Homo sapiens: one gene and its partners. The protein of the gene in region 5 purifies or fractionates together with the protein of the main gene of each other region. This does not show direct contact. Each region holds a gene or a part of one and is shown on either strand. Other genes may lie near its edges.

Region 1 (3,500 bases), on a different chromosome or scaffold from region 5:
AAATAGAGATGGGGGTTCAATATGTTGTCCAAGATGGTCTTGAACTCCTGGGCTCAAGCAGTCCTCCCACCTTGGCCTCTCAAAGTACTAGGATTATAAGCGTGAGCCACCATGCTCAGCCACAAAGATGATTTTTAAATGCAGGCAATTTATTCATGCAATTCAAATTAATATTTACTAAAATTATTTAAATTAATGAGAAGCTACATAGTAAGATTTTTGTTTTTGTTTTTGTTTTTGAGACGGTTTCACTCTTGTTGCCCAGGCTGGAGTGCAATGGCGCGATCTCGGCTCACTGCAACCTCTGCCTCCCTGGTTCAAGCGATTCTCCTGCCTCAGCCTCCCGAGTAGCTGGGATTACAGGCATGCGCCACCACGCCCAGCTAATTTTGTATTTTTAGTAGAGATGGGGTTTTTCCATGTTGGTCAGGCTGGTCTCGACCTCCTGACCTCATGATCTGCCCACCTTGGCCTCCCAAAGTGCTGGGATTACAGGTGTGAGCCACCGCACCTGGCCCATAAGTTTTTTTTTTTTAACCTACTTACTGATAGTCTGTGAATACTGACAAGATTAGCAACAGGATGTTTACCCTTTAAATTATTTTTAGAACTTCTGATCTAAACCTTGGCTGTATCTTTTATCTTTCCATTTTACATGACCTTAAAATCCAATCTCTATTCAATGACTAACAGAATTACATGAAATGACTTTAACAGCAAGACATAAACAATACCATTCTACAATTACAATTCTGGAGAGCAAACTGAAGTAGCTGAGCAAACTTACTGGAACCAGTTTCCAAAACCATTTGGAAGGAGACTTCAGAGGAAGCAGCGGGAAAAAAGGGGAAAGCAAAAGGTAAAGGGAAAATTCATCAGAATTATCTTCAATTAACAAATTATAGTAAAGCTTCTGATAGTGGAGTTCCAAGTTTATAGTTCTCATAACATTTCATATGTTAATAAATATTTTAGTTAAAAATACATAAGTTCCTAATGCTAAAGACCACTATCTTCTCCTGTCTCTCTCCTCTCCCCATACAGATATTCATTGTAGGATACCTAGAATATGCTGTATACTTTAGCAGCAAAAAATTTTATTTCTGAGTTTTGGAATCATATGTCATATTAAAAAATAAATCTATATCACAAAAGGGAAGTAAAAATATTCTACAGCTAGGTTTGCAATCATAATTCTTAGGTATTAGTAGACTGTGTCTGACAAGGCAATATTCCCCAAAAAGCAAAGTAGAAAGATAATTTCAATAAAAACAAGTATAAAGCAAATAATAATATAGTAGAATATATCAAGATGATCATTTCCTTCACTATATAAAAAGTTTCTTTTAATTAATGGAAAAAAACCTAGTTGGCAATTGTTACCAGTTAAGATTTTTGTAAGTGTCTAAAGCAAGTAACTACTCACACAAAGAGAATATAAATGTTATTAAATTTACTATCTAGGGCTGTCCCAAAGAATCTAATTTTCTTCTTTAAAAAAATGAATATAATAAACCCATAATTTCAGATAACATGAATTAATCATTTGTGTTTGTTTATCTTTGTATCTGCTAAAACAGCTTCTGGCTCTGAATAAATGTTTGTTGAAGTGAACCAAAGTAAATAGAATCTGAGTTAAAATTCATATCCAAAATTAAAATTCATATCCAAAATTTTTATGTAGAAAGTTTTTCCGTATAAACAGAAAAATAATATAAATAAGGTATTTTCAAGAACTTTAAGAATTAGAAAAATGTCACCTGAAGAATCAGAAACATACCAGCTTCCTACATATAAACAACATTTCCAATAAATTTTTCTTATAGCACCAGGAAGAATAGCCTCAATAATTTTGTGGAATGTATTTTAATCTCCCATTTAACTGAACGTTTTTGGCAGCTGCAGTTATAATAGCCACAAAAAGTACAAGAGCAGGACCAAAGAGCAGGAAGCCACTGAAAACGTGTCAGGGTTTCCAATTTGTAACAGAAATTTTAAAAACAAGGATTTTTTTGTTTTCTAGACTAGAAGAACCCATTAAATAGAAAATGGTGATAACAAGAAATTATTGTGGACTATTCCTAACAGCAGGTGTACAAAGAAGTCTCTTAACGGTTAAAGTTATTCCATATTTCTTGTAAAATATGCAATAATTGGATTTTGTTACTAATTCAGACTGCTCTGGCCTTTCTCTTGGCCCTCCATTGATCTAAACTGGTAACAGCAATCTTCTTGGCGGAAAAAGGAAACCCACAGATTGGCTGTGTGAAGGAAATTTAACTAAAGAGTAAATGTACTAAAAGAACAAATAAATATACTATGCATACTTATATACGTATGCTTCAAAAAGCTCAAATACATAGCATAAGTTCCTTGCTGAAGAATAACGCCATTTCTGAAGTGATCAGCAACTATCCTTTTGGTTTTCAGGGAAGAATTAGGCAAACTGCAACATCAAATCCTGTTTTAAGATGTAAATAACCACGAGGACAAAGGTTTTTTGATTTTTTTTTTCTTTTTATCAGGACCACCAGGCAAGAAACAAAGGGTTTTTTAAAACCCATGGATAACAGGTGAAAAAACTTTTATTAAGTTTCTACCGACAAAGGGGCCAACCTAGGCAGTCCAGATTTTCTGGAATAGTTCTAATTTCAAATATTCCTTTCAATTGTCTTTATAATACATGTTTGGCTCACCCTGAATTTTGGCTAGTTGTTTTAGGACTTGCCATTAATACTCTCCAAATAATACTCTTCCTCTGGGTATCTACAACATTCTGGCAAGGTAGGATAATTCCTGAACTACTTCTAGGTGCTCTCAGGCCGTTCCAGGAGGATATTGGTTTGGTGTGGTCTTTATTGGAGACCTCAAAGAGTTGGGGTCCTTCAGGGAGTTAATCATGGCTGTGACTTGTTACTGCATGACTTGTTAACTTGTTAGATTTAATCTTTTTTTTTTTTTTTGAGACAGTCTCCCTCTGTCACCCAGGGTAGAGGGCAGCGGAGCTATCTCAGCTCACTGCAACCTCTGCCTCCCAGGTTCAAGCAATTCTCCCACCTCAGCCTCCCTAGTAGCTGGGACAACAGGCATGCACCACCATGCTTGGCTAATTTTTGTATTTTTTGGTAGAGACGGGGTTTCACCATGTTGGCCAGGCTGGTCTTGAGCTCCTGACCTCAAGTGAACCTCCCACCTAGGCCTCCCAAAGTGCTGGGATTACAAGTGTGAGCCACCACGCCCAGCCATTAGACTTAATCTCCTAGCTGTTGCAGATCCAAAAGTTATGCCGAATCGCTGATGGAATATAAAATGGTACAAGCTCTTTTGGAGGGGATTTCGTCAACATTTAACAAAACTACATACAGTATGCATTTACCCTTCAATCTAGCAGTCCAACTTCTAGGAAATTTACCTTGAAAATACATATCCAAAATACAAAAGGCCACATATAACAGTATTCTGTGCAGCACAATTTGCAATAGCAAGATACTGGAAACTAC
Region 2 (3,500 bases), on a different chromosome or scaffold from region 5:
TGAAACCACAACTCTACAAAAAAAAATACAAAAATTAGCCAGGTATGATGCTGTGTGTCTGTAGTCCCAGCTACTCGGGAGGCTGAAGTGGGAGGATCACTTGAGTCTGGGAGGTCAAGGCTGCAGTGAGATAGCACCACTGTACTCCAGCCTAGGTAACAGAATGAGACCCTGTCTCAAAAAAAAAAAAAAAAAAAAAAGAGAGAGAGAGAGATAAACCCTCTCTAACATGGTTAATTGACTGTGACATGAAGGGTGCCAAAACCATTCAATGGGGAAAGGACAGTCTTTTCAACAAATGGTGCTTGTAAAATTTGGTATCCTCAAGCAAAAGAATGAAATTGGACCCTTACTTTATACGATATTGAAAAATTAACTTAAAATGATCAATAACCTAAATGTAAGAGCTAAAACTATAAAACTCTTAGAAGAAAACATTGTGGAAAATCTTCATGATATTGGATTTGGTGATGATTCCTTGGATTGACACAAAAAGCAAAAGGTAACAAAAGAAAAAATTAATTTGACTTAATCAGAATTTAAAATTTCTGTGCAAAAAAGGACACCATCATGGGAGTGAAAAGACAAACTACAAATTGTGAGAAAATATTTGCAAATCATATATCTGGTAAGGGATAAATATTCCCTATATATAAAATATATAAATACAATGCAATTCAAAAATGAGCAAAGGATTCAAATACACATTTCTCCAAGAAGATATACAAAAAAGGTCAACAAGTACATGAAAAGATGCTCAATATCACTAGTTGTTTAGAAAAATGCAAATCAAAACCACAATGAGATACCACTTTTCACACCAAATAGGATGATTACCATGAAAAAGAAAAATAAGTGTCAGTGAGCACATGGAGAAACTGGAACCCTTACATATTGCTGATAGAACTGTAAAATGGCACAACCACTACGGAAAACAGTCTGGTGGGTCCTCAAAAAGTTAAACATAGATTGACTAAGTGAAATAAGGCAGTCAAAAAAAGACAAATACTGTATGTTTTCACTTACATAAGATATCTAGGGTAGTCAAACTCTTAGAAATAAAGTAGGATAGTGGTTGCCAGGGGTTGGGGGGAATGGAGAAATGAGGAGTTGTTTAATGGGTACAGAGTTTCAGTTTTGCAAAATGAAAAAGTTCTGGAGTTTGGAGGCACAACCATGTGTACATACTTAACAGTTGTGTTAAGTATGTACTTAACATAATTAAATACTGTTAAGATAGTAAGAAAAAGATTTATTTTTTATTTTTTTATTATTTTATTTTATTTTATTTTTCCCCCAGAGACAGAGTTTCGTCATGTTGCCCAGGCTGGTCTCAAACTCCTGGGCTCAGGCAATTCTCCCGTCTTGGCCTCTCAAAGTGCTGGGATTACAGGCGTCAACCACAATGCCCAGCCAAAATGGTAAATTTTGTATGTATTTTACCATAATCTTTTCTTAAACATAGAATTACTCATATGACTCAGCAATTCTATTTACAGCTAAATACCCAAAAGAATTGCAAGCAAAGAACCAAATAGATACCTGTATATCAATATCCATAGCAGCATTAGTCACAATAGCCAAAAGGTGGAAACAGCCCCACCATCGACAGATAAAATATGACATATATACACAATGCAATATTAGCCATAAAAAGGAATGAAATTCTAATATATGCTACAACATGAATAACCCTGAAAACACTATGCTAAGTGAATTAACTCTAACACAAATGGATAAATATTATATTAACCCACTTATATAAGGTACCTAGAATAAGCAAATTCATAAAAACAGCAAGTAGAAGATATTAGTGGGTGGGAGTGAAACTGCCCCCACAGGGTTCACAAGAAGTGCATGCCAGGTTCTGGACAGAAATATAGTTATAATTAAGCATTAATCAGGCCGCACTTTGGCCCACTTCCTGGTTGCTAAAAGTCATATAGCACTAGATACTGACTATTTGCATTCCTATTGTTCCTACAGAATAGGATTTCTGACATTAGGGTCATAAAACTTTAAGATTTTATTTCTATCCCCATCTTTCCTATAACAGGATCTCTGACATTATAATCATAAGGCTTTTGTTTAAGGATTGCTTAATATGTTTTTCAGACCCCTGAATTCCAGCAACCAGTTTGAAGTCCCCCACAGAGGAACGGGATCTGCAAGAGAATACAGCTTCTTCATCTCCCTGTCCCATGACTTCATCCTGTACTCTTTAACAAATAAACAATTGCCACACTTCGGCCCACTTCAAAACCCTTAAAAAACCTTAGCCCCCATCTCTTACGGGAGATGAATTTGAGGTTTTCCTCCATCTCCTCATTTGGCGGCCCTATGATTAGACCTTTCTCTGCTGCAACCTGGAGTCTCAGCTTATTGACTTGCTGTGTGCATTGGGCAATGAACCCATTTACAGTTACAGAAGGGAGAATTAGTGAGTTAACGTTTCATGGGTACAGAGATTCTGTTTAGGTGATGAGAAAGTTCTGGAAAAGGATAATGGAGATGGTTGTACAACATTGTAAATGTAATTAATGACACTGAACTGTACACTTAAAAAATGGCTAAGATGGTAAATTTATGTTATATATATTTTACTGCAATAAAAAGTATTTTAGAGAAAGACACATTAGAAAGAAAGAAGCTGGAAATGGTACATAGAGACAACTCTATGGAGTTGTTTTGGTCCAAAAAAAAACAAGACATGGGAAAGTATACCTATTAATAAAAGAAACAATAGGGGCTGGGTGTGGTGGCTCTTACCTGTAATCCCAACACTTTGGGAGGCCGAGGCAGGCTGATCACTTGAGCCCAGGAGTTCAAGAACAGCCTGGGCAACAAGGTGAAACCCCAACTCTCCAAAAAATACAAAAATTAGCTGGGCATGGTGTCATGCACCTGTAGTCCCAGTTACTCTGGAGGCTGAGGTGGGGGGATCATCTGAGTCCAGGGAGGTCAAGACTGCAGTAAGCCATGATCACACCACACTGCACTCTAGCCTGGGTGACAGAGCGAAACCCTGTCTCAAAAAATAAAATAAAATAAAATAAAATAATAGAATAAAATAGGTTGGGCGCGGTGGCTCATGCCTATAATCCCAGCACTTTGGGAGGCTGAGGTAGGTGGATCACTTGAGGTCAGGAGTTCAAGACCAGCCTGGCCGAAATGGTGAAACTCTGTCTCTACTAAAAATACAAAAATTAGCCAGGTGTGGTGGCAGGCGCCTGTAATCCCAGCTACTAGGGAGGCTGAGGCAGGAGAATTGCTTGAACCCGGGAAGCAGAGGTTGCAGTGAGCCAAGATTATGCCACTGCACCCCAGCCTGGGCAACAGAGTGAGACTCCATCTCAAAAAAAATAAAAATAAAATAAAATAAAGGGGAAATAACAGAGCCAAAATATTTGGGTTTTTTTTTTCCTTAAAAGAATTTTTTTAACATGTTAATGGTAATACTTAGTAGTGAAAATACAATGTAGAAAAGAGAGGGGAGAATT
Region 3 (3,500 bases), on a different chromosome or scaffold from region 5:
GCATGTGACAAGAGCAGGGTCTGAGAGAGGAGGGCACTGCTGGAGAACAAGGCTGCCTTGGGATCTTGGACTTTTGGACTTTTCATGGTTGCAACTGGGAACTCCCCCTCTCCTCCTAAAGGACACAGTGAGATCTGCTGAAAACCTTGGGCAGGAAAACTATAGGGGCAGAGGGAGGGAGTACAGGCCAGAAGTACCTTGAGGTTGTGTGACAAAAGTCCCAAGGGGGACTGGGTGCGGTAGCTCATGCATGTAATCCCAGCACTTTGGGAGGCTGAGGCGGGTGGACTGCTTGAGCTCAGGAAGTTAGAGACCAGCCTGGGTAACATGGAGAAACCCCATCTCTGCCAAAAATACAAAAACTTAGCTGGGTGTAGTGATGCGTACTTGTAGTCCTAGCTACTTGGGAGGCTAAGGCAGGAGAATCGCTTGAACCAAGGAAGCGGAGGTTGCAGTGAGCCGAGATCATGCCATTGCACTTCACCCTGGGCAACACAGCGAGACTCTGTCCCCCTAAAAATAAAAAGTCCCAAGGGGAAATAACTGGGGAGGTTTCCTGTAGATGATAGAGGGGTGGACTGTGACTTGAGGAGAGAATCTCTGCTAGCATTGTACCAGGTACCACAAGAGTGTCAGGGGGTGCACCTGGCATGGTGCCCTCTGGGTCTAAGCCTTTCCTTGTACACACTCACACTTTGATTTGAAGTGACCTCTTCCCTCTGAGCCTTCTGGTGTCCAACTCTCCCCTTCTCTAGGACCATGCAGTGCTGGAGGCCGAGAGGCAGAAGATGTCAGCCCTTGTGCGAGGGCTGCAGAGGGAGCTGGAGGAGACTTCAGAGGAGACAGGGCATTGGCAGAGTATGTTCCAGAAGAACAAGGAGGATCTTAGAGCCACCAAGCAGGAGTAAGGACATTGGCCCTCTCAGAAATACCCATGATTCATATGCCACTTCCTTTCTTTTTTTTAATTTTTAATTTTAATTTTAATTTTAATTTATTTTTTGGGACAGAGTTTCGCTCTTGTTTCCCAGGCTGGAGTGTCATGGCACGATCTTGGCTCACTGCAACCTCTGCCTCCTGAGTTGAACAGATTCTCCTGCCTCAGCCTCCCAAGTAGCTGGGATTACAGGCGCATGCCACTACGCCCAGCTAATTTTTGTATTTTTAGTAGAGATGAGGTTTTACCATGTTGGCCAGGCCAGTCTCGAACTCCTGACCTCAGGTGATCTGTCCACCTTGCCTCCCAAAGCACTGGGATTACGGGTGTGAGCCGCTGCGCCTGGCCCCCTTTCTCCTTTTTTTTTTTTTTTGAGATGGAGTCACACTCTGTTGCCCAGGCTAGAGTGCAGTGGTGCAGTCTTGGCTCACTGCAGCCTCCGCCTCCTGGGTTCAAGCGATTCTCCTGCCTCAGCCTCCCGAGTAGCTGGGATTATAGGCGCCTGCCACTAGGCCTGGGTTTTTTGTATTTTTAGTAGAGACGGGGTTTCACCATATTGGCCAGGCTGGTCTTGAACTCCTGACTTCGTGATCCTCCCACCTCGGCCCCCCAAAACGCTGGGATTACAGGCGTGAGCCACTGCACCCAGTCCCTTTCTTCTTTTTTTTGAGACAGGGTCTTGCTCTGTTGCCCAGGCTGGAGTGCAGTGGCACAGTCTGGGCTCACTGCAACCTCCACCTCCTGGGCTCAAGCCATCCTCCCACCTCAGCCTCCCGAATAGGTGGGACTATAGGCATGCACCACCACACTTGGCTAATTTTTGTATTTTTTGTAGAGACGGGGTTTCATTATGTTGCCCAGGCTGGTCTTGAACTCCTGGGCTCAAGTGATCCATCTGCCTTGGCCTCCCAAATTGCTGGGATTACAGGCATGAGCCACCATGCCTGGCCCACTTCCTTTCTATCTATGGTATGCTCTTACTCTCCCATTTCTCAAACTGCTCTTTTCCACGTTCACCTTCCTTCCTCTTGAGAGTTGGTGCCCAGCGTGTTGGCCTCCAGAGAGGTGGCTTTTATTGTCATGCTAACCTCCCCCAGGCATGTGGCCTTACTCTGTTCCCTTTCCCCTTTATTTCACCTTGCCTGGCTCAGACTCCTGCAGCTGCGAATGGAGAAGGAGGAGATGGAAGAGGAGCTTGGAGAGAAGATAGAGGTCTTGCAGAGGGAATTAGAGCAGGCCCGAGCTAGTGCTGGAGATACTCGCCAGGTTGAGGTGCTCAAGAAGGTATTTGGGAATTGGGGGGCAGAATGGTAGGTAGGGGTGATGAACACCTGCCTTACCTCTCCATGAGGGCCTTCTTGCTAGTGGGGCTATCTCCTGTGTGCTTGGTTTCCAGGCCTCATCCTGCCTGCTCAGCTTGATCTCTTTCCAGCACAGCAGCACCAGTCTCCTCATTGAGCATAGAGGTTTCTAATGGAAAGTGCTCTCAGAACCCAGGTTGGGGTATAGCCAGAGGCTGCTGGCCGACTCCCAAGAGACGTCATGGGTAGCAGCATTTAGGTGGATTTGTGAAACTCCAGGATGATTTTTGCAGGCTCAGAAATCTAATTTGGTCAGCATGGCAAAAGCTGCTTTGTCTTTCAGAGGGGTCTCTAACTACATTTATGAAAAAATGTTTACCATTAGAATTTCAGTTTATTAATTTACATTGAGAAATATCATCACATGGACTGGAATACTTGTGTTGGCATGGCCTGGTTACTAATGTAACAAAACTAATTAGCAAAAGAAAAATAGCAGAGTATATGGTATTACATTGAAGATTCACTACATATTATATAACCCTTTAGCCTAATTATGGTACTTTCTGAATTTCAGAAGTAGCTAATAGCTAATAATTAGAACCAGAACTCCTATTTTAATTTTCTTTTTAAAAGAAATCAGAGCTGTGCCAGCATTTATTGTGTCACACATTTTGGTTTTATACACACACACACACACACACACACACACACGAAAGACAAGTGGCAGCTGCAGGGATTGTGCTGACCTGTTCTGTCAAAGTCTCTCCAGGTTGCTCTTGCATGCAGTTGGAGATCCCATGGCCACACTATATATATATATATATTTTTTTTTTTTTTTTTTTTTTTGAGACGGAGTCTCACTCTGTCACCCAGGGTGGAATGCAGTGGCGTGATCTCGGCTCACTGCAAGCTCCGCCTCCTGGGTTCACGCCGTTCTCCTGCCTCAGCCTCCCGAGTTGCTGGGACTACAGGCGCCCACCACCACGCCCGGCTAATTTTTTTTGTATTTTTACAAAAAAAATACACGTACTCAGTGTTTCACCGTGAAACATGGTTTCACCGTGTTAACCAGGTTGGTCTTGATCTCCTGACCTTGTGATCCGCCCTCCTTGGCCTCCCAAAGTGCCGGGATTACAGGCGTGAGCCACCGCACCCAGCCTCACACTGTATTTTTTTTAAACAACCAGCCTTACTAGCCATACCTTCATGTACTCTCCCTTCATGGTATTTTTTTTTTTATGGAGTTATATTTTACATGC
Region 4 (3,500 bases), on a different chromosome or scaffold from region 5:
TCAGGAGTTCGAAACCAGCCTGGCCAACATAGTAAAACCCTGTCTCTACTAAAAATACAAAAATCAGCTAGGCGTGGTGGCGAGCGCCTGTAGTCCCAGCTACTCAGGAGGCTGAAGCAGAAGAATTGCCTGAACCTGGGAGGCAGAGGTTGCAGTGAGTCAAGATCACGCCACTGCATGCCAGCCTGGGTGACAGAGCAAGACTCCGTCTCAAAAAAAAAAAAAAAAATATATGTATATATATATATATTTATATGTATATACACATGTATACATATGTATATATGTACACATGTATACATATATACATATACACATATGTATATACGTATATATACACACATATATATACACACACATATATGTAATATATGTATATATATTAGTACACACACACACACACACATATATGTATATAAAAATTAGCTGGGCATAGTGACAGGTGCCTGTAATCCCAGTTACTTGGGAGGGGCTGAGGCACAAGAATCACTTGAACCTGGGAGGCAGAGGTTGCAGTGAGGCGAGAGCACACCAGTGCACTCCAGCTCAGATGTCGGAGTGAGACTCTGCCTCAAAGAAAAAAAAAACCTTCAGACATCAAACTTTTGGAATACTGAACTTTAGAAAGTACATGCAGTAATGTTTTTGATCTATAGTCTCATAAAACTAAAAGAAGCAAGTAAAACTTCCTTACAACCAATTCCACAGAACCTTCATTTATTCAGCACAATAAATGAAAGCACATGGGCTAGAATCTCTCCTCCACCACTCATCAGCATTCCAGATAAACAGGCAATGTGTACAAACAGAGCAAAGAAGGATAAGACTACAGTATGCTGGCCAGGTGCGGTGGCTCACGCCTGTAATCCCAGCACTTTGAGAGGCTGAGGCAGGCAGATCACGAGGTCAGGAGATCGAGACCATCCTGGCTAACACAGAGAAACCCCATCTCTACTAAAAATACAAAAAAAAAAAAAAAATTAGCCAGGTGTAGTGGCCGGCGCCTGTAGTCCCAGCTACTCGGGAGGCTGAGGCAGGAGAATGTTGTGAACCCAGGAGGCGGAGCTTGCAGTGAGCCGAGATCGCACCACTGCACTCTAGCCTCGGTAACAGAGCGAGACTCCATCTCAAAAAAAAAAAAAGAGTGTACAGTATGCTGCAGAAATAGCATGTAGTCCATTGTGGCTGACGCACACAGCACTACAAATGCCACACCAAGAAGGTTGGATCTCATTCTGTAGACAACTGAGTGCTAAAAGAGGCTTGTGTGCAAAGGAGTGATGTGATAAGATTTCTATTTTAGAATGGTAACCAGCAGTAATGAGGATCTGATGGACTGGCAGGGAAAGCAACTGAGAAAGAGGCTAGTTGAGAGTTATTGTAATGATTCAGATGTACAGTAAAGATCTGGAACTAGGGCAGGAAAACTAGAATGAAGTGAATAGAGCTATTGCAAATATGACCAACTGGCAATAGGAGTCAAGAGAAAAACCTTAGAATTTCCTGTCTAGAGGGATATGATGCCACTAATCAAGACAGGAAACAGAGAGAGGAACACGAACAGTTCTCCCAGTTCCCAGAATATTTTGGGATACATGTGCATCTATGCGTGCACATGTATTAGAGAGAAAAGGCTGTACTCTTAGTAGTTTCGGGAGTGTAAATTAATTCCATTGCAAGTGGTTAGGTAGTTGAAGCAGAGAAGAACAAGAAAAGTCAAAGCATAACATGCTAGGCAAAAGCTCTAAGAACACAGCTGTGGTCAGCTCTTTTTGTGCCTTGAGTACTAAACACCATCATACGTCCTGACTACACGTTTTTGAATGACTACATCAGAATGGGCTACCAGTCCAATGCACTATCCACTGTGTCACAAAAGTGGCTCCTTCTAATTATATTTTAAACCTAAATACAAACTAAGAGGTTTTCCACAGGTTTACTGAAGTGTAATTAAATTGGTTGCAGAATACCTGCCTGAGAGTGAAGTTAACTCCTTGAACACAATCAGATTATTTCATTAGAGAAAGTATCCAGAAAAAAAAAGCCTATCCATGATAACAATTAGGACCAGGTCCACAAAGACCTTGAGGACACCAAAAACAGCAAGGACAGCCTGAAATGAGACTTAAAAATGACATCCTCTGTGAGATGACATCAAAGGAATTACTGTTAACTTGGTTAGATTCATGGTGGCATTTGCATTATGCAAGAAAATGGCCATATTTTTGGAAATGCATACTTGACAGTATGTAGGATTAAAATGACAGATGTTTGGAATTTACCTTAAAACACAATAGCAAGAAAAAACAAAATGGGATAGATGAAGAAAATGTACCAAAGCCCTAAAATTATTAAATCTGAGGGATGAATATATTGAAACGGGGTCACTATATTATTCCACCTATGTTTAAAATTGTTCATAATGAAAAAGAATAGCAGGACTCTCCACACAGGCATGTTCTCTGGTAGCAGTGCCAGGTTAACTAACACTCCAGCCCTTGGTGGAGCCACTCTTCCCTTCAATTCCAATGTTCAAAACCAGAACCCTAGGAGAGAGACGAAGCCACTTTCACACTTAGAGGCCATATCCAGCCTCACCCCAGTGATGCCTTCCATGTGTTCCATTTAGTTGCGTGTGTGTTCATTTCTTATATGAGAGAGTGGTAAGTCCTTCTGAAGGCAGGGACTATATCTGAATTCCCTATGTCCACTAAGAATAGTGCTTTGTACACAGCTACTTTCTAAATGTATGCTGCTAAATTTTAAAAAGTCAGAATGTATAGCAATGTGCAGACACATTCATGACTACTACTTACAATTAGCCCCCTTTTCTAATCTAATTTAGGGTCCCCTCTTGGCATAGCCTGATTTGGAGGTAGCAGGGATGAGAGAATAGGGCTATTCCACCCTAATTGAAAACAGACAGTATTTTGGTGAGACACTGAAAACCAGGAAAAATAGTGTATTTAACAGAAATAGGGCCAGGCATGGTGGCTCACACCCGTAATCCCAGCACTTTGGGAGGCTGAGGCTCGCACACCGCCTGAGGCCAGGAGTTGGACACCAGCCTGGCCAACATGGTGAAACCCCATCTCTACTAAAAATACAAAAATTAGCCGGGCGTGGTGGCACGTGCCTGTAATCCCAGCTACTCAGGAGGCTGAGGCAGGAAAATCTCTGGAACCTGGGAGGCAGAGGTTGCAGTGAGCTGAGATCGTGCCACTGCACTCCAGCCTGGGTGACAGAGCGAGATTCTGTCAGAAAGAAAAGAGAAGAGAAGAGGAGCGACAGATCGAGATTCTGTCAGGAAGAGAAGAGGGGAGCGGAGGGGGAGGGGAAAGGGCTGTGATTACATCTCCATGATTAAAATTCAGAAAATGTCTAATAAATACTTTTTTTTTTGAGACAAGAGTCTTACTCTGTCACCCAGGCTGAAGTGCAGTGGTACTATCTCGGCTCACTGCAACCTCTGCCTCCCGGGTACAAGTGATTCTTCTGCC
Region 5 (3,500 bases):
GACACATTCAGTGTAGTAAAATGCCACCTTGAAAATCAACATTTATCCCTGTTCTGTGGAGCTTAAAAGGATTTAGTCTAAGCTGAAAGGAAATCCTTATAAGCACTAGGGGCTGCAGCTCTAGTCAATGAGATCTCTATAGAATCAGAAAGGAAGGCTTGCACTCTTGCAAAACAAATCACAGCAACTCCTTACAAGTCAGGCCACTCGAAGCACATAACTACTGTTAAAACAATATATTTTCCTTTCTTTCTCCCTTCACTATCATGCAATCTTCTCATTACTTTATAAGGTCATGGGGGAACAAGTTGTATTTTCCTCAAATGATGTGCTAAAGTACAAAACTCTATTTCATCAGTTTACATTTCCCCTCCTGTCATATGATTGTGAAGTGTTTAAAAGGGCACAGACAATGCTTTCAGAGTTACTAGGGGTTTTATAAAAATGATGTACCACCAAATTAATGTTGCTCAATGAATATATTTTCCTGTCAAGATAGTATTGTGTTTTTGTTGTTGTTGTTGTTGTGTTTTTTCTGAGACAGGGTATCGCGCTTGTTGCCCAGGCTGGAGTGCAGTGGCGTGATCTTGGCTCACTGCAACCTCCACCTCCCAGGTTCAAGATTCTCCGGCCTCAGCCTCCCGCGTAGCTGGGATTACAGGGATGCGCCACCATGCCCAGCTAATTTTGTATTTTTAGTAGAAATGGGGTTTCTCCATGTTGGTCAGGCTGGTCTCAAACTCCCGACCTCAGTTGATCCGCCCGCCTTGGCCTCCCAAAGTGCTGTGATTACAGGCGTGAGCCACCATGCCTGGCCTGTGTTTTTAAAATAAAATTTATAATCAAAATTACCTACTATACAATCAACTTCTTATTTTAGAAACTTAATTATAAAAACTGCTTCCTCAGTCCTGTTAAAACTGTAATGAGGCCGGGCACAGTGATTCACACCTGTACTCTCAACCCTTTGGGGGGCCGAGGCAGGAGGACTGCTTGAGTCCAGGAGTTCAAGACCAACATGGGCAACACAATCAAAACTCTATCTCTACAAAAATATATATATATAATAATTATTATTTTTTAATTAGCTGAGCATGGTGGGACATGCCTGTAGTCATAGCTACTCATGAGGCTGAAGTGGGGGGATCACTTGAGCCCCAGCATTCAAGGCTGCAGTGAGCTATGATTGCACCATTGCACTCCAGCCTGGGTGACATAGTGAGACCCTGTCTTCTAAAAACAAAACAAAACAAAACATACAAAAAACACTGTAATAATATTTGTTCTAGTAACAAGATAGCACCCTCTCAGTTAAGTGAAAATACTCAACAAAGAAAATATTGCAGGACAACGGTTAGGTACTAGGCCCTAGAGACAGAAAGGGTTCAAACCCTGGCCCTATTACTCGTTAGCTATAAGATCTCAGTCAAAATACTTTACCTTTTTGAGCCTCCCTTTTTTTTTTCCTTCATTTATAAAATGGAAGCTTCAGGAGATAATGCAGGTAAAATGCTCAAAAAAATACATGGCATGTAATTAAATAAATGTTAGCTATTAATAATAATGATAAAAAATCAATAATTTCAATGATCAATTCTTGCTTAAAGTAGTCCTAAAATATGTCAATATCCCATCTGTCTTAGTAAGTTCGTGGCACATAAAATAAGTCTGTGCTTCCTTTGTGATAGAGGACACTGCAAGTCATCTGAGTGACTTCCCTGCCCCTGCAAAATTGTTGAGAAGTACAAGGAATATGAAAGCTGGATTGACTATGTTTCCAGGAACAGTCCTAGAAGATACTTACTTTCAGAAGGACTTATAACACCAGATTTTCTTGTAATCTGTTTCTTCTAGAAATGGAACATAGAGAGGAAATCTAGCTAATAAATCCTTACAGTTAACTAAGGTTTTAAAAATTGTTGTCTGGAAACACATCATTCTGCTGATGTGTCTTAAAGTGGGTCTTAAAATAAAGATACTGAGATTAAAAAGAAATTTAACTGAGGAGCATCTCTAATCAAGCAAATTACATTAATCTTCACTTTTTTCCTCTTAATATATTCCTTGAGTACTTATTTTACTCTGAGGCTAATGGGAAATGCAAAGGTGAGTAAGGTATCCCTGAATCAAAAAGTTAATACCCTAATACAGACCGAGTACATCTCCTAATACCATGGGATTCCTTTAAGCATCAAATTTCTGAGATATCTGGTCCCTGAAGTATTAGTGTCAATCTACCATTTTAAGGATATTGATCAGAAAAAAATATGAAATTAACAATGAGCATTTAAATTTCACTTGTAAAAATACAAACTTCTCTATAACCATAAAAAATGTATACACCACACATTTATTTATAAATGAGAGTATTTGTGGAAGCATAGTATCACAGATCAGAGCTGCAAACATCCTTCTACAGCAATCACAATAAGCCATCTTCCTGGCATGAAAGGAAGGCAGCTAGTCACCAGTAGAGAGGCAGGTGCTTTCAAATTCATACTGAATAGTTCTCCCTTGCAAAAACAAGGGCTTTAATGAGAAGTCACACATTTAATACACTTGATCTTAGCCAAAAGGCCGAGAAGTGATCAGATATTTAATAGGTGTTCTAGCACCAAAAAGTCAAATGGCAAAAGGCAAAGTGACAAAAGTATACTGAAGTGCCCTCAATAAAATCTATTCTAGGGAAATAGATCACTTCTGAAGATAAGAGGAATGGGCAAACACTTCTGAAGGCACATACCAACTTCCCAGCTTTATCCTCCCAGAACAAATGCCTCAACAGCAGCAGATATCTTCTCTATTAGGACACTATGACTTCATACATTAAGGAATCTGTATGATTCATTCAAAAAATATTTATTCCCTACCAGCTCTGATATGGAACTCCCACAGGACTGCCCCAGAAAACATATTATTGTGTATGTCACTTTTTACCTCCAATTACATGTACTTAAAGACTTAGACTATAAGTTCCACAAGGACAGGGTTCATAACACCATATTCCTTCTGGCAACAAAGGCTGTTATACATGGCAGGAGTTCAATAAATGTTGCTGTCTAACTTCCAAGGACTATTCAATTTTGTTGTAGAGATAAGTCATATATGAATGTGCCAGGTGTAAGTGTGTGATTATAAATAAAGGATTGTCTTTTTTTCGTAATACAAGAGCATCTCTTCAACGTGCCCTTCAAAATTGTCCCCTTGGAACACTATTCAACTTATTCTAACAAGACTACTTTTCAAAACCCAAAAGAATATTTTAAAAAATCTCCCAAAGAGCAGCAAATTATCATTTGAAGCTATGTTTGATTTCCAAGACAAGGACATACATATCACGGATAAAAACAAATTGTACTCTCTGATCAGTTGTGCACAGATCAAAAAGATTTTTAAAAATCTAACTCTGGCAAGGGTTCAGAGAAATGGGCACTCTCATGCACAATATGAAGGAATGAAAACTGGGACTTTTTAGACGGTAATTTGGTAATATTTACCAA
Region 6 (3,500 bases), on a different chromosome or scaffold from region 5:
GATCGATCTGATATCTGTGTTTTATGTGTAAAGAATTATAATCCAGGCTGGGCGCAGTGGCTCACACCTGCAGTCCCAGCACTGTGGGAGTCCGAAGCAGGCAGATCACTTGGGCCCAGGAGTTTGAGACCAGCCCGGGCAACATGGTGAAAGCCCATCCCTACAAAAAACACAAAAATTGGTCAGCTGCGGTGGCTCACACCTGTAATCCCAGCACTTTGGGAGGCCAAGGGGGGCGGATCACGAGGTCAGGAGTTCAAGACCAGCCTGGCCAATATGGTGAAACCCCATCTCTACTAAAAGTACAAAAATTAGCCAAGCATGGTGGCGCGTGCCTATAATCCCAGCTACTTGGGAGGCTGAGACAGAGAACTGCTTGAACCCGGGAGGCAGATGTTGCAGTAAGCCGAAGATCGCACCATTGCACTCCAGCCTGGGCGACAGAGCAAGACTCAGACTCAGAAAAATACAAAAATTAGCAGGCATCGTTGCACACACCTGTAGTCCCAGTTGCCAAGGAGGCTGGGGCGGGAGGATCACCTGAACCTGGGAGGTTGAGATTGCAGGGAGCTGTGATTATCAAAGTGCATTCCGCCTGGGCGACAGAGCAAGACTGTCTCCAGAGAAAAAAGTGAGCTCCCAGCCAGCCCTGAGAGTCGTATTCTGCACCTGGTAGACATCCTCATTGCCTCTTCCCCAGAGAAGCCTTTGCTTCTGGGACTGGTGCCTCAGCTCTCAGGCCTCTGTGCAGAACGGGCTCTCTTCCTCTGTGCAGAACGGGCTCTCTTCAGGGCCTCCTCCTTCACGGAGTCATGGATGCTTCACTTTCTGCAAGGGAGGACCATGCGGAAGGGCCGAGTGTTCCAGCGCGCAGGCTGCTGGGGACTGTTGACCAGAAAGCGCAATGCGGCCGTGTGATACGGGGGCGGCCACTGCATGGCCCTTTGCTGACAGGCACCGGTGCCATGGAGGCTGGGGGCGCACAGCAGGGACGGAGGCCCCAGCCCTGGGCTGTCACCGAAGTTCAGGTCCCAGGAGCCACGGGGGAGTCATCCGAGGAGCTGCTCTGCAAAGTGTGGGCCCCGCGGCAGCGTGCGTCCCAGGCAGGACGGGGGTTGGCCTTGCTGCTCCAGACGCTGACGGAGCCCCTTAGGATGGAAGTGACTCGCACTTGTGCTTTTGAGGCCCAGCCCTTTCAGTGCCACTGGTTCCCGGAGTGTCTGTGACCTGTCACTGCTGCCAAATGCCTGAGGCGGGGGGCCCGACCCCTGTTTGCTTTCCCTCATCCAGTCCATCTGCAGATTCTGTCACTTTGATCCCAAAATATCCAAGCAGCTCCCCTGCACTATTGCCCGGCTGCCCTCCGCTGTGTGGACTCCTGACCACTCGCCGCGGCCTCACCATCCCTTCCCTGCACAGCAGCCACGTGGGTGACCCAGAGTGCTCCACTGCCCTCCCGGCCCCGCCGTGGCTCTGTCCCGCCATCCTGTGCTTGCTGTGTCCCTGGCACCCCACCGGGCCTCTCCCCCGCTGCCTGGTGCCCTCCCTGCACTTCCTGGTCCTGGCAGAGCCACTCCTTTGTCACTCGCATCTCAGCTGCTGCCTTCACCAGCCGTCAGTCACTCGGGCCAGGGCGGGGTCACCGGACAGGTGCATGTTCTGCCTCAGCCCTCAGACCAGGGCGTACTCAGTGGTCCCCGAGCTGCCCGAGGCCAGACAGCCCCGCAGGAGGAAGCGGTGGGTTTGTGGGGCAGCCTTGAGGGGCATGCAGCTTTCTCGGCACCCCCATGGGAGCACGCCCCCTCTGGGCTCTGTGTCTCTGGGATCATAACCTCCCGCTTCCCATCCCCGCTGTGGAGGGGCAGGGCTTCCCATGCATCTGAACTTCCGTCTTCCCTGATAGTCCAGAGCAAGACCCTGTGGGGGCGCCTGGTGAGGAGGGCACCCGCTTCCTGTTTTGTTGTCCAGGGAATTGGTGGGCCTGTGTTGTGGAGGTGCGTGAGTGCCCGTGTGTCACAGTGTGCGTGGCCACCCATGTGTGAGACAGTCTCAGTAGGAGCTGGCCAGGCGGGCCAGGCTGTGGCCATGCTGGCTTCACGCCACCCCCTGCCCTCTCCGTGCAGTACCCACAGCCGTGTGTGCCTGCAAGCTTCACGCCACCCCCTGCCCTCTCCGTGCAGTACCCACAGCCGTGCGTGCCTGCAAGGGCTGGTGTCCTGCTTTGCAGGTGACCCAGGAAGAGGTCGAGGCGCTGGTTTGTGGTCACACACAGCGGTGGGTGCCTGGGCCGGTGTACGACGCCGCTGCTGGTGGCTCTGGCTGGGCTCAGCTGAGCCTCAGGGCTGGAATGGGTGTAGGCCAGGCCACTGGGTCAGTGGTGACTGTTGGCGGGGAGAGCAGGGGGAGCCGTGTGCAGGGCGGGGGCTTTGCTGGCTGACCAGGCCGGAGGACCGTGAGCCACCTGCACGCCCTTGGGCCGGAGCCAAGCAGAGTGACGCAGCGGGCTAGGAGGCAGGGAACGCCCTTCCACCTGACTGTGGCCTGAGGGTGCCTTCCCTGGGGCCCAGCCGGTTCCGCGGGCCAGAGCGGTGGCTGGCGCAGTGCTGGGGCGAGGCTGGAGGCTGGGTACTTGGCCAGGTCTGAGGCCACGGGAACAGAGGGCTTGGTCCCACCCGGCTCAGTTAGGAGCAGGGAGCTGAAGTGTGGCCTCTTTGCTGCTGAACTGAGGACTTTTTTTCAGAAGGGATTAGGCAGGAGGACCATGTGACCAATGAGGAAACTGTTTTGTTTTGTTTGATTTTTATAAGTGTAGGAAGCTCTTTTGACTTAGTTGCTTTTACAACAACTTTACCAAGTCTCATCACAATTGTGTTTTGCTTTGAGTTTTGAGTATGAAGAGCTTAGGCTTCTAGTGTGGGCGCACAGTCAGGACCATACCGATGGGGCGGCCGCGTGTTCGCCAAGCGTGGCCTGGATGCTGTGGACACACTGGCCGGCTCCCAGCAGGCAGGGGCTACCTCGCGAGCCACATGTGTGACCCGGCAGGTGCTGAGCTCATAGGGGATGGCATGAGTGACCCCACGCCTCCCAGTAATGCCTGCACAGGGTGAGTGCTGACCAGCTTCCGAAGGTCACAAGCGATGGGCTAAGGTCTGTGGCCCTGTGGCTGCCATCGGCGTCTGTGTTGTGGTTCTGGGGGTGTTAGTGGGACGGTCACACTCCTGGGGAAGTCACTGCTGGGAAGAGGCATGGCAGGCAGCAGCTTTCTCGATTGGGCAACTTGGAACTAGCTGGCTGGCGCGGTGGTATAAGAACTTGTCCTTTGGGGCTGAGGATAGGCGGTGAGCGCTGACGACGGTGGCCAGCCCCGCTGCGCCCTCCCTTGGCTTCTGGGAACAGGAGCAGGCTCCGTGGTGTGTGTTCCCGGTTCTGGGCTGGGATGTTTTCTGTGACTAACGTGGTAATGGGAATCCCACCGGGGTGGGCCCTGCCTGTGGAGA
Region 7 (3,500 bases), on a different chromosome or scaffold from region 5:
CACTCGGCTCGCTGGGACCAGCTCCTGGCTCATTGTGTTCAAGATGGCTTCGCTGGAGGAACCTGCCTGGAACACCCACAAGGAACCCAGGGTTACACAGGCCGGAGCAGAATGGTAAGTTCCTTGTAAGCCCTGCCTGTAACCTGGAGCAGGGCAGCTACTGCCTAGAATTGGCTCTGACCTTCGAGATAAGATGACCTGTCTTAACTGGCAGGCTGAGACTAGTTACTCCTGGGAGGCAGACAGAGGTACCATCCATGCCAACTCAGAGGATTCTTCACACTCCTCAAACTCTTGCAGCCTAGATGCCAGGGCTGGAGGAGATGCCAAGGTGATCAGGATATGGGGTGCTGCTTCCTGCCATCGGTGCCTCTGGTCCCCACCAGTTCAAAATTGACCACTGGATCACTAACTCATTCTGCAGGCTCCCTTCAGCAGCCAGGCCAGAGCCTGACATGCTCCACCCTGGGTGAAGTTGTACTGAATCACAGAACAGCCTTCCTCCATCCCCCACGACAAACAGACAAAAACCAAAGAGTGGGGAAAGCACCTTATTGTCCTCATTGTATTGGGAAGGGCTCTCAGGACATATGAAACCTGTATCAAGAAGATCTGGTAAGAATCAACAATCTTGTAGCTGCTGTGAATGCAACAGCTGTCATGCCCCAACCAGGGCATGTTTTGATGCTAAGACTGGATGTTTCACAGGCAAAGGATTTGGCTACTTGTTAGCTATTAACCCAGCTTGGAGTGCAACAGTCTAATAACCTTCATTCCCCAAATCAGAACAAGAAACTGCATCCTCTAGGGCCCACCATGAACGGCTGTGGCCACTTCCCACTGCGGCCTTGAATGGATGGGCCCAGGGATGGGCAGGAGACAGAGCATCGGGTCTTAATACATTTTTAAAACCTACCTAGCAATGGCAAGGTAAATAAATTAAGTGGACAGAAATTGTTTTCGTGGGGGAAAAATACTCTTCAATTTCCCAAAGTCTTGAGTCCTTCCAAGAGTTGAGAGTAGGGAGTTGACATGCAAGCCTCTGAGCTGGAGGTGGGCTTGCAGAGTGAGCTTAAAGGAAAGAGATCCAGTTCCCCCTCTCCAGTGAGGCAGGTTGCAGGAAGGAGGGGATGGTGAACTAACCAATCAAGGTAGAAATCAGTGGTTTAGGCACTTGTTACTCAAAGTGTGGTTGACAGAGCAGTGGCATTGGTATCACGTGGGAGCTTATTGGGAAGGCACAATCTTAGGCCCCATCCCTGACCTGCTGAATCAGAATCTACCTTTGGGTTTTTTTTGTTTGTTTGTTTTGTTTTGAGACAGGGTCTTACTCTGTTACCCAGGCTGGAGTGCAGTGCCACAATCTTGGATCACTGCAGCCTCTGCCTCTTGCACTCAAGTGATCCTCCCACTTCAGCCACCAGCCACCCAAGTAGCTAAGACTACATACAGGTGCAAGCTGTCACACCCGGCTAATTTTTGTATTTTTCATAGAGATGGGGTTTCATCATGTTGCCCAGGCTGGTCTCAAACTCCTGAGCTCAAGTGATTGGCCTCCCAAAGTGCTGGGATTACAGGCATGGTCCACCAGGCCTGGCCAAAATCTACCTTTGAACCTGATCTCTGGGTGATCTGTGGGCAGAATACAATTTCAAACATTCTGGTTTAGACTTCTGTGTAACAGGGGGAGGTAACCTGACTATACAGGCACCTTTCCTGTGGATAATCTGTCTTTTCCTACCTACTTCCTGGAAAAAATCCTCACCAGGCCCACTAAGATGGGCATTTTGAGAACATCTCCTTTAAAGATGAAAGGCCTGGTGCTTACCGAGATGTTCCACATCATCTTGATGGCCAAGGGGAAGGCAGGGGCCCCCGGAGCTCGCTCCTGCCCTTCTCCTGGTGCACTGGTACCTGGGCCTCTCCCTGGAAGCAACCCGGTGCTCTTTGTCACCTCCAGGTTCTGGGGCAATGTAGGCATGGTGGCTTCATACACAGCAGCACTGCAGCCCTTACCAATGGACTGCCCTATCAGATACTCCTCCAGCCGAAAGCCCTGCAAGCGTCTCGTGTCCAACGGGTCAGGCCCCGGCTTGCTTTTCTGGGTAAAAATTGCCTGTGATGAGAAAAGAATGCACCGTGAGCCAGGGAGCCTAGGAAGGCCCAAGAAAAGGGAAACAGGGGAGGCAGAGAGAGGTGCAGCAAGGCGTGGTCCACGTCGACCAGATCAATAAACCAGAAAAACACAACCCAACCAGGTTCTACTGCTCAGCCTGGGTCCAGGCCATCTTCTTTCTCATTATTCAGAATGATTTTTCTCAAACTCTGTTGCTTCACTGGGATCACAATACTCAATGATCTGAGAGGTCAGAAACCCCACGTCCCGCAGCCAGTGCACCTCTCCTTGCTGCCTTCACTCTCCAGCAGAGTTCTGGAGGTGTCTGATTATGGAGACAGCTCGCTCTGCAAAGACCTTGGCTGACGGCTCCTGGGCAACTAGCAGGAGTGTGTGATCCACAGTGATCTCAGAGGGTCTCTCAGGCAAGTGGGTGACATCAGGCGCATCCCCAGAGCAGAGGGATTCAGTACTGTCTTTCTCTCTCTGCCTCTTAGGGCCCCGATGAGGCTACTCTGTCCAGAAAGGTAGCAAGAGTACAAGAGTTCAGACAGAAATAGATGGAGGTGCAGGTGCTGGGGGCAGTGCTGCACTGGGAAAGAGGCCATGTGACAAAAATCTGGTGGGTCTTCCCCTGCTTCAGGCAGCGGTGACGTCACTCTTCCAGTCACCCAGGCTCCGCTTTCCCTCTCAAATGGTCTGATCTGCTGAGCTCTTCCTTTCCAAGGTTAGTCACCCCTGGGTGCCAGGCACAGCTCTGCATATGCCCCTTGGCCATAGCCTACCAGGCACCATCTCTAGACTACCCCACTCTCAGTGCCGTGCCTTCCCTGCTCTGAGCCACATCAAAATATGTTGCTTTCATGTGTCACTCGGCTGTCCATCAGACTGCCCAGGAGGTTATCTGTGTTCTGGCTGCTGCCAGGCTGGTCTGCACGCTGCCTGCACTCATCCTTTGGACGCCTCCCTCTGAAAGCTGCTCACAGCATCCTTCCAGCCCCTGTTTCTATAGTATTGCTCTGTCTGGCTCATCCCTGCTCAGCCATCAAGCCCAACTCAAGCTCCTCCTTCCTCTGTGACCAGCCCTGATGACCCAGCCCATGGCAACTTTCCTTCTAGAGGGTTCCTAAAGCACCTGCTATCTGTAAGCAACTTAACCTTGCACTATAACTTTGAACCTTTTAAAAAAATGAAAGTCCAGGCCGGGCGTGGTGGCTCATGCCTGTAATCCCAGCACTTTGGGAGGCCGAGGGAGGCGGATCATGAAGTCAGGAGTTCAAGACCAGCCTGGCCAACATAGTGAAACCCCGTCTCTACTAAAAAATACAAAAAATTAGCCGGGTGTGGTGGTGTGCACATGTAATCCCAGCTACTCAGGAGGCTG

The links.
Region 1: the proteins of MAPKAP1 (region 5) and CAMSAP2 purify together in Homo sapiens (affinity purification with mass spectrometry, with the first as the bait; one large-scale study listed by BioGRID). This does not show direct contact.
Region 2: the proteins of MAPKAP1 (region 5) and TESK2 purify together in Homo sapiens (affinity purification with mass spectrometry, with the first as the bait; one large-scale study listed by BioGRID). This does not show direct contact.
Region 3: the proteins of MAPKAP1 (region 5) and CGN purify together in Homo sapiens (affinity purification with mass spectrometry, with the first as the bait; one large-scale study listed by BioGRID). This does not show direct contact.
Region 4: the proteins of MAPKAP1 (region 5) and STK38 purify together in Homo sapiens (affinity purification with western blotting; one study listed by BioGRID and IntAct). This does not show direct contact.
Region 6: the proteins of MAPKAP1 (region 5) and NADK purify together in Homo sapiens (affinity purification with mass spectrometry, with the first as the bait; one large-scale study listed by BioGRID). This does not show direct contact.
Region 7: the proteins of MAPKAP1 (region 5) and PINK1 purify together in Homo sapiens (affinity purification with western blotting; one study listed by BioGRID). This does not show direct contact.

The regions. Positions count from the first base shown.
Region 1 is NC_000001.11:200,825,893-200,829,392, reverse strand, and holds part of CAMSAP2 (calmodulin-regulated spectrin-associated protein 2), read right to left. Parts: intron 821-3,500; coding exon of another isoform or gene 788-820; intron 1-787. UniProt on the Homo sapiens protein: Key microtubule-organizing protein that specifically binds the minus-end of non-centrosomal microtubules and regulates their dynamics and organization.
Region 2 is NC_000001.11:45,453,164-45,456,663, forward strand, and holds part of TESK2 (dual specificity testis-specific protein kinase 2), read right to left. Parts: intron 1-3,500. UniProt on the Homo sapiens protein: Dual specificity protein kinase activity catalyzing autophosphorylation and phosphorylation of exogenous substrates on both serine/threonine and tyrosine residues. Phosphorylates cofilin at 'Ser-3'. May play an important role in spermatogenesis.
Region 3 is NC_000001.11:151,524,887-151,528,386, forward strand, and holds part of CGN (cingulin), read left to right. Parts: intron 1-755; coding exon 756-904; intron 905-2,088; coding exon 2,089-2,221; intron 2,222-2,944; exon of another isoform or gene 2,945-3,052; intron 3,053-3,500. UniProt on the Homo sapiens protein: Probably plays a role in the formation and regulation of the tight junction (TJ) paracellular permeability barrier.
Region 4 is NC_000006.12:36,526,980-36,530,479, forward strand, and holds part of STK38 (serine/threonine-protein kinase 38), read right to left. Parts: intron 1-3,500. UniProt on the Homo sapiens protein: Serine/threonine-protein kinase that acts as a negative regulator of MAP3K1/2 signaling. Converts MAP3K2 from its phosphorylated form to its non-phosphorylated form and inhibits autophosphorylation of MAP3K2.
Region 5 is NC_000009.12:125,672,709-125,676,208, forward strand, and holds part of MAPKAP1 (target of rapamycin complex 2 subunit MAPKAP1), read right to left. Parts: intron 2,590-3,500; exon of another isoform or gene 2,446-2,589; intron 1-2,445. UniProt on the Homo sapiens protein: Component of the mechanistic target of rapamycin complex 2 (mTORC2), which transduces signals from growth factors to pathways involved in proliferation, cytoskeletal organization, lipogenesis and anabolic output.
Region 6 is NC_000001.11:1,757,971-1,761,470, reverse strand, and holds part of NADK (NAD kinase), read left to right. Parts: intron 1-1,568; coding exon of another isoform or gene 1,569-1,737; intron 1,738-2,227; coding exon of another isoform or gene 2,228-2,370; intron 2,371-2,828; exon of another isoform or gene 2,829-2,939; coding exon of another isoform or gene 2,940-3,106; intron 3,107-3,336; exon of another isoform or gene 3,337-3,413; intron 3,414-3,500.
Region 7 is NC_000001.11:20,636,458-20,639,957, reverse strand, and holds part of PINK1 (serine/threonine-protein kinase PINK1, mitochondrial precursor), read right to left. Parts: intron 2,117-3,500; coding exon 1,829-2,116; intron 67-1,828; coding exon 1-66. UniProt on the Homo sapiens protein: Serine/threonine-protein kinase which acts as a sensor of mitochondrial damage and protects against mitochondrial dysfunction during cellular stress.